2 linked regions of the Homo sapiens genome follow. The protein of the gene in region 1 interacts with the protein of each later gene in a pairwise test. Each region holds a gene or a part of one and is shown in the gene's direction. Other genes may lie near its edges.

Region 1 (3,820 bases):
CCTAATTTGAGGGGCTCGATAAAGGGTATTGGAGGTACTTCATAGTAGGCCCCCTCCTTCCCTCACACACACACTCACATGTACTCCAAACCTCAGCCACACTGAACATCTCACAGTGTTACACACCACTGTGGCGCCCAGTGTTTACTAGGTGCTCAGTAGGTGTTTATTGAAAGTATGGTTTGAAAGAAAAATACAACTATTATATATTAGTTTTTAAAAAGTGTTATGGAAGAAAAAGAATGGTTTGAGTTCTTTATGAAATCCACGTATGAATACTCATGAAATATCTGCTCTTGTACTTTGCGGGTATCTCAGAGGAAGAAAATGACCTTGTACTAGAAAGGATCTTTGATAGTTTAAAGACTGTATGGTAACGTCAACACAATAAGATATTGGTGCTCCTTTGGAATTAAAACTTCTGTGGCACTACAAAAAAACTCATTTGGCTTTAGGAGCCTTGTAATAATGGCATCTTTTAAAACCATTCTGGGGTTATTTAAAGTGATACAACCCACTTGGAGCAGAGCTAGGATTAAACTTTTTTTTTTTTTAACTAAAATACATTTTTAGCACAGCCTAACACAGAAGCCAAGTAGATAAAAGGGATGGAGATGGAGCCGCTCTGCTTGATGGAGATAGGGATTCACAACCTGCCTACTCACTAGCCCCCTTATTCCCTGCAGCAGCTTCCTAAGGCACTTCCAAGAAATCCCTAGGTTAGCTCAGAGGAGAAAACCACTGTTTTAGTAAAGGGACTCAGTGCTGGAGTCAGGATATCTGGGTTCTTGGGGAAGATTCTGCCCCAGAGTAAAGACAACTCTGGCCAAGTCCTTTCTCCTCTCTGGGGCCTCAATCTCATTGATTGTGAATAGGAGGCTGGGATTAGATGATCTTGGAACTGCTTTCCAGTTGAAATTCTATTTCTAGCCCCCTTGACCCTGGCCTTTCTTACTGGCCTGTATGGCCACCGACTCAGCTCTTCCTTATTTTCAGGACAACATCAACTTGCTGCTTACTGAGGAGGAAATGTATAGCCTCACGGAGACCTTTCAGCGGTGTAAAGTCATCCCTGGTAAGGTTGGGTGGTGCTGCATGGATGGAGAGGGGCCGGGCAGATTTCTCCTTCAGGCTTTCTAGAATGAACCATGAAAGGAGTGTTCCATATTTAGTGGGTAGAGGGTAAATGAGTCCTTGTTCCTGAGTTGTTGGCCAGCAGAGTCACCTATCCCTGTCACAGCCTGGGTGACCCTGGCCATGGGAGGCAGAGACTTAGCAAGAGCTGTGGGTTTGGGGGCCCCGAGGGTGCCCTGGAGGTGATGGAGGTGCCCTGAGGCTGAGGAAGGATGGGCATGGCTAGCACGGGGTGCCTCCCACAGATTGCTCCCTGACACTGGAGGACTTTCTGCGTTACCGCCACCAAGCAGCCAAGCGGGGGGACCGTGACAGGGCCCTGAGTGAGGAGCAAGAAGAGCAGGCGGCCCGCCAGTTTGCTGCCCTGGACCCTGAACATCGAGGCCACATAGAGTGGCCTGACTTCTTGTCCCATGAGTCCCTCCTGCTTCTGCAGCAGTTGCGTCCCCAGGTGAGGGCCAGTTGGGGCAAATGTTCCTGGGATACTGGGTGACAAGGGCCTGGGAGGCACGCTGGGCAGATTGGGGGAGCACTGGGTCCTGCTCAAGCAGGGACAAGTATCAGGAATGGGCTCAGGTTCCATCCAGTGACAGATGATCTGGTGCCCAGGCTGAGGAAACTGCGTGAGGAAGACTGATCTGCCCTGGGCCGCACTGGAAGTGCTGATGCCTCCAGAAGGGCTCTGGGCAGCTTCTAAGGGAGGTTGCAAAGGTGGTAATGGAGATAGGATTCTCTATGGCTTGGCAGTTTACAAGATATCTTCACCTCTAAGATCTTGTCTCTTCTTCCCCAGAACTCTCTGTTGAGGCTTCTGACAGTGAAGGAGCGGGAGCGAGCCCGAGCCGCCTTCCTGGCTCGGGGCAGTGGGAGCACCGTCAGTGAGGCAGAGTGCCGCCGGGCCCAGCACTCTTGGTTTTGCAAACGGTTCCCAGAGGCTCCTTCCTGCAGTGTCAGGTCTGCTCCTTACCAGTCCTGGTCCCCACTCAGCCTCTCCTCCTCCCTTTTCCATGCCAGTGGCCCTTCCATACCTCCCTGCTCCCCCTGCCAACAGCCGAGAGAGGAGCCTCCTGTGCATTAGGTAGAGGATGGTGATGCCTACGGGCCAGGGCATAGGACAGCCTCTGCCTTCAACTCGGTGTTGCCACATGTCAGAAGAGCCTGGATGAGCATGTCCAGAGCCTTGGGCTTACCAGAGTTTGGGAGGGGGCAGGCATTTCACTATCCCACTCCTAACCACGTGTCCTCATGCCCAGCAGCATCAGCCATGTGGGTCCCATCGCAGATAGCAGCCCAGCCAGCAGCAGCAGCAAGAGTCAGGACAAGACCCTGCTGCCCACAGAGCAGGAGTCCAGGTGAGTAGGACCTCCTCACCTGGCCATTTGTACCCTCTGAACCCCCACAAAACACACAAGTAAGAGAGGGCATTACCCACTCCCACTCCAAAACAGCAAGCGCCCACCCAAGAAACCAGGCTCCAAGAGTGCACATTTGACCCAAGTCTATAGGACCAGCCAGCTGGTCTGTTGGCCTGGTAGCACAGCCAGCCATAGCCAGGTCAGGCATGAGCCAAGCTTCCCTGAGTTTTGTGTAGCTCAAGCCATGCTGCCCCTGGGATCAGGGCTCACGCGTCTTCAAACCAGCCTCCTCAAGCCATGCTGCCCCTGGGATCAGGGCTCACGTGTCTTCAAACCAGCCTCACGACTCTGTTCTTTGCTTCCACTCCAGATTTGTGGACTGGCCTACCTTCCTGCAAGAGAATGTCCTCTACATCCTGGCTGCTCGCCCCAACAGCGCAGCCATTCACCTGAAGCCCCCAGGATAGCATGGAGCAGAGAAGCTCGGTTTGAGGACAGTGACATCCTCTCCCTCCTTTCCTTTCTCCCTTCCCCCACCAACCTCTGGCACAGAGACTCATGGGGTTGGGACACTGCCAGCGTCTTAACTTGTCACTAAGCTTTAAGGCACTGAAATCACCATTCCCCTCACAATAGAGGCAGTGAATGCATTGCCACAAGGAGAAGCCCTGGGAGCTGTGGCAGCATCCTCTCCTGGACCGCCCCTGCCCCACATCATAGACGGGACCTGCCACCACACTTATATACATGTGCACATGCTGCCCAGCTGTCCATGCCTTCAGAAGCCTGGTTCTTTTTGGTTGAGAAAGGACCAAAGTCCCTTTGTGAAGCCCCTGGTATAGAGGAGGGGGTCTCTACTCACCCCTTCTATAGGCAGGCCAGTTCTAATTTCCAATAGATAAGTCTCTGGCCAAGTGATTCTTAGGAAGGGGGCATGTCAGACTCGCATGCCTGCCTAGAGCTCCTGGAGATCCTAATGGGCCCCGCTTTCTCCACCAAAAATCCCTTCTGCAGTCAGCTGCTGTTACTAGTAGGTGTGCATTATGTACCTCGGCTGTACTGAGTTGGGAAAAGAGTTAAACATCACCACTGAAATTCAGCCCTTTATTTATTTAAATTCCAATTCCTGGTGACAGAAAAGGCAACTAGCCTGGAGAATCCTGACTGGAAGAGGGGGAGGCAGCCCTTCCCAGGGACTCGGGATTCTAGGAACCTCTCAGTCAGGTCACCTGAGTCCAAAAGTCTTTAGCAGGGTAGTCAAAAATCAAGGTGAGCCTTCTTGGCCCCATTTTTCAGATGGTAGCTCATGGCCTAGGGCCAAGGGGGCCTGA
Region 2 (3,820 bases), on another chromosome or scaffold:
CCCAAAACAGTATACAGTTTTCTTTTTCCTGGATAATGTCTCCTTTGCTGTAGATGCAAGTCATTTTTACTTTATCACTATGGAACTTAGTTTAAGTTGAGATCTATCTACTTACCCTGTGTCTCCTGACACATGATATATTTTCTTTCTTATGGGGGTGTAGTTTAACATGGTGATTAATAGCATGGGTCCTGAAGTCAGACTGCTTTAAATCCTAATTCCCATTTACTAGTTATAGCCTTGGGAAAGTTAATTTCTCTTGGCCTCAGTTTTCTTATCTTTAAAATGGAGAAAATAGAGCTACTCCTAGGATTGCTGTGAGGATTAAATATGGTAATAATGTAAAGCAGAACACAGCTTGGCACATAGTACTAGCTCCATGAAGATTAGCTATTCTTATTAAGTCAAAATGAATGTTACAGATTGTAGGTATTATGGAAATTATACCAAATTAAGCAGCTAGTGTGGGCCAGATTATTTACAGACACTTCAGTATTGTAATTCTTCCTTTGATAACCTTTGGTTTGAATTTCATTTAGATGTTCTTGGAAAGGGCTGGGCGTGGTGGCTCCTGGCTGTAATCCCATCACTTTGGGAGGCCGAGGCTGGTGGATCACCTGAGGTCAGGAGTTCGAGACCAGCCTGGCCAACATGGCGAAACCCCATCTCTACTAAAAGTACAAAAATTAGCCGGGCGTGGTGGTGTGCACCTGTAGTCCCAGCTACTTGGGAGGCTGAGGCAGGAGAATCGCTTGAACCCGGGAGGTGGAGGTTGCAGTGAGCAGAGATGACGCCACTGCACTCTAGCCTGGGTGACAAAGTGAGACTCTTTGTCTCAAAAAAAAAAAAAATAAAGTGTTCTTGGGAAGATCTTGGTATATCAAATTAGTGTTTAATTATGACATTCTATTGAAAAAATACCATGCAAAGCTTCCCAACCAATGTTCCAGTGCTTAGGATGGCATATAGGTGTGCTGTTTACAAATTTTTTATAGCATTGAAATTTTAAATCATTTTTATAAGTTCAAACTTTTACAACAGTTGAAATTACATTTGAACATCTTTGGTATGATTTCCTCTTGTATAATTCATGAATTTGGTAATTTGGTTATTTACTATTTAAACAATTAGAGATGGGGGTCTCATTATGTTGCCCAGGCTGGTCTCAAATGCTTGGCCTCATGTGATTCTCCCATCTCAGCCTCCCAAAGTGCTGGGATTACCAGTGTGAGCCACTGTGCCTACCCTACCATGAATTTGGTAATTTGAAAAAATTTTATTTGGTATAAATACTAAATTTATACCAATTTAATATTTAATATCATTTGTAATACTTTGTATTTTTTTCATGCCATAATTTCATAATAAGAAATTTTGTGTGTGCGGGTTTTGTTTTTGTTTTTTTTTGACCCCAGGGCAAGCAAGAAAATTTTTTTTCACCAAGCTCTTTCAGCTCACCCCAATGAGCCTTACAAATATTTTTAATGTGTGCCATCATGTGACAAAGGTTGGGAAGCACTGGTATAATGGATAAGAGCACTGCTTTTGGATTCACACAAAACTGAATTTAAGTTCTACCTCCACTTATTAGCTCTGAGACCCAGAGCAAGTAACTTAACCATAAGAATAATAATTTTTACATATGTAAAGCAGAGATGATGTTTCATAATATGAAATGAGATAATGCATGTAAAATGCTTCACATTAGTGCCTAGCAAATAAAAAATAGTAAGTGGTCACTTCTATTGATGATGATGATCGTGAGAATTACCATTTTAGCTACTTTTTTCAGAGGTTTTTCAGACAGCTGTTTTATTATTTTTCATATTAATATACTATTTTCAAAGATCTTCAAAGAATTTTAATATCCTTTTGTGGTGAAAGGAATTAAATGTTAGTCCTTTTTTTTTACTCATCACTGTACTAATGAAGATACTTAGTTTTGTAAATTATTGAATTATCTGCTCTCTGTATTTCTGTTTCTTGATAGTTTCCTTTAGCAGGTTCTGAGAAAACATAAAAAAAAACTTTGTTCTTTGGGATTTGCTGGTGGTAGTATGGCAAAAAGCCAGTTGCATGCAGAGAACTGGAATCATCTAATTTACTTAAACTCTATATTATACAGTTAATTATATTTAAATTGCTGCATATTATTGGCTGAATATGCTTATTATTGAGAATAAGACTGCCCTTTGGTAAACATGCCATTACATTATATCCTCCTATGGGATTATACCCTTTATTATGTTTGCCATTTGCTTGGGATAAGGTTCATGGCCAGTTACATTTCATGTGAGGATGCATCTGTGTTTCGGGGAAAAAAAGCTTTGTGTTTTATAAGCATGTATCATTCTTTGTGTCTTTTATTTAAATGCATTAGTCACTTTTTTAACATTTCAATAGGTTTTTGGGGAACAGGTTATGTTTGGTTACGTGAATAAGTTTAGTGGCAATTTCTGAGATTTTGGTGCACCCATCACCTGAGCAGTCTACACTGTACCCAATGTATAGTCCTTTATCCCTCACCACCTTCCCACCCTTTCCCCCGAGTCCCCAAAGTCCGTTGTATCATTCTTAGGCCTTTGCATCCTCATAGCTTAGCATCCACTTACAAGTGAGAACGTACGATGTTTGGTTTTCCATTCCTGAGTTACTTCACTTAGAGTAATCGTCTCCAGTTCCATCCAGGTTGCTGCAGATGCCATTATTTCATTCCTTTTTATGGCTGAGTAGTGTTCCATGGGTGTAGAGGGGTGTGTGTGTGTGTGTGTGTGTATATCACATTTTCTTTATCCACTCGTTGATTGATGGGCATTTGGGCTGGTTCCATATTTTTGCCATTGTGAATTGTGCTGCTATAAACATGCGTATGCAAGTATCTTTTTTGTATAATGGCTTCTTTCCTCAGGGTAGATACTCAGGAGTGAGATTGGTGCATCAAATGGTAGATATACTTTTAGTTCTTTAAGGAACCTACACACTGTTTCCCATAGTGGTTGTACTAGTTTACATTCCCACCAACAGCGTGAAGGTGTTCCCTTTTCATCACATCCACACCAACATCTATTTTTTTTTTATTATGGCCATTATTGCAGGAGTAAGGTGGTATCACATTGTAGTTTTGATTTGTAGTTCCTGATAATTAGTGATGTTGAGCATGTTTTCGTAAGTTTGCTGGCCATTTGTATATCTTGTGAGAATTGTCTATTCAAGTCCTTAGCCCACTTTTTGATGGGATTGTTTTTTTCGTGCTGATTTGATTTCCTTGTAGATTCTGGATATTAGTCCTTTGTCAGATGTATAGATTGTGAAGATTTTCTCCCACTCTGGGTTGTCTGTACTCTGCTGATTTCTTTTGTTGCTCAGAAGCTTTTTAGTTTAGTTGAGTCCCATTTATTTATTTTTATTTTTGTCTTTGCATTTGCTTTTGGGTTCTTGGTTGTGAAGTCTTTGCCTAAGCCAATGGCTAGAAGGGTTTTTCCAATGTTATCTTCTAGAATTTTTATGGTTTTGGGTCTTAGATTTAAGTCAGTAGCCCTATACACCAACAGCAACCAAGCTGAGAATCAAATCAAGAACTCAACCTTTTACAGTAGCTGCAAACAAAAAACAAACAAACAAACAATACTTAGGAATATACTTGACCAAGAAGGTGAAACACCTCTACAAGGAAAACTACAAAACACGGCTGACAGAAATCATAGATGATACAAACAAATGGAAACACGTCCCATGCTCATGGATGGGTAGAATCAATATTGTGAAAATGACCATACTGCCAAAAGCATATCTACAAATTCAATGCAATTCCCATTAAAGT

The links.
Region 2: the proteins of PHF24 (region 1) and GNAI3 interact in binary tests that used the Homo sapiens proteins (3 or more experiments, as listed by UniProt).

The regions. Positions count from the first base shown.
Region 1 is NC_000009.12:34,975,156-34,978,975, forward strand, and holds part of PHF24 (PHD finger protein 24), read left to right. Parts: intron 1-996; coding exon 997-1,075; intron 1,076-1,379; coding exon 1,380-1,585; intron 1,586-1,927; coding exon 1,928-2,088; intron 2,089-2,387; coding exon of another isoform or gene 2,388-2,390; coding exon 2,391-2,486; intron 2,487-2,859; coding exon 2,860-2,956; 3' UTR 2,957-3,820.
Region 2 is NC_000001.11:109,551,327-109,555,146, forward strand, and holds part of GNAI3 (guanine nucleotide-binding protein G(i) subunit alpha-3), read left to right. Parts: intron 1-3,820. UniProt on the Homo sapiens protein: Heterotrimeric guanine nucleotide-binding proteins (G proteins) function as transducers downstream of G protein-coupled receptors (GPCRs) in numerous signaling cascades.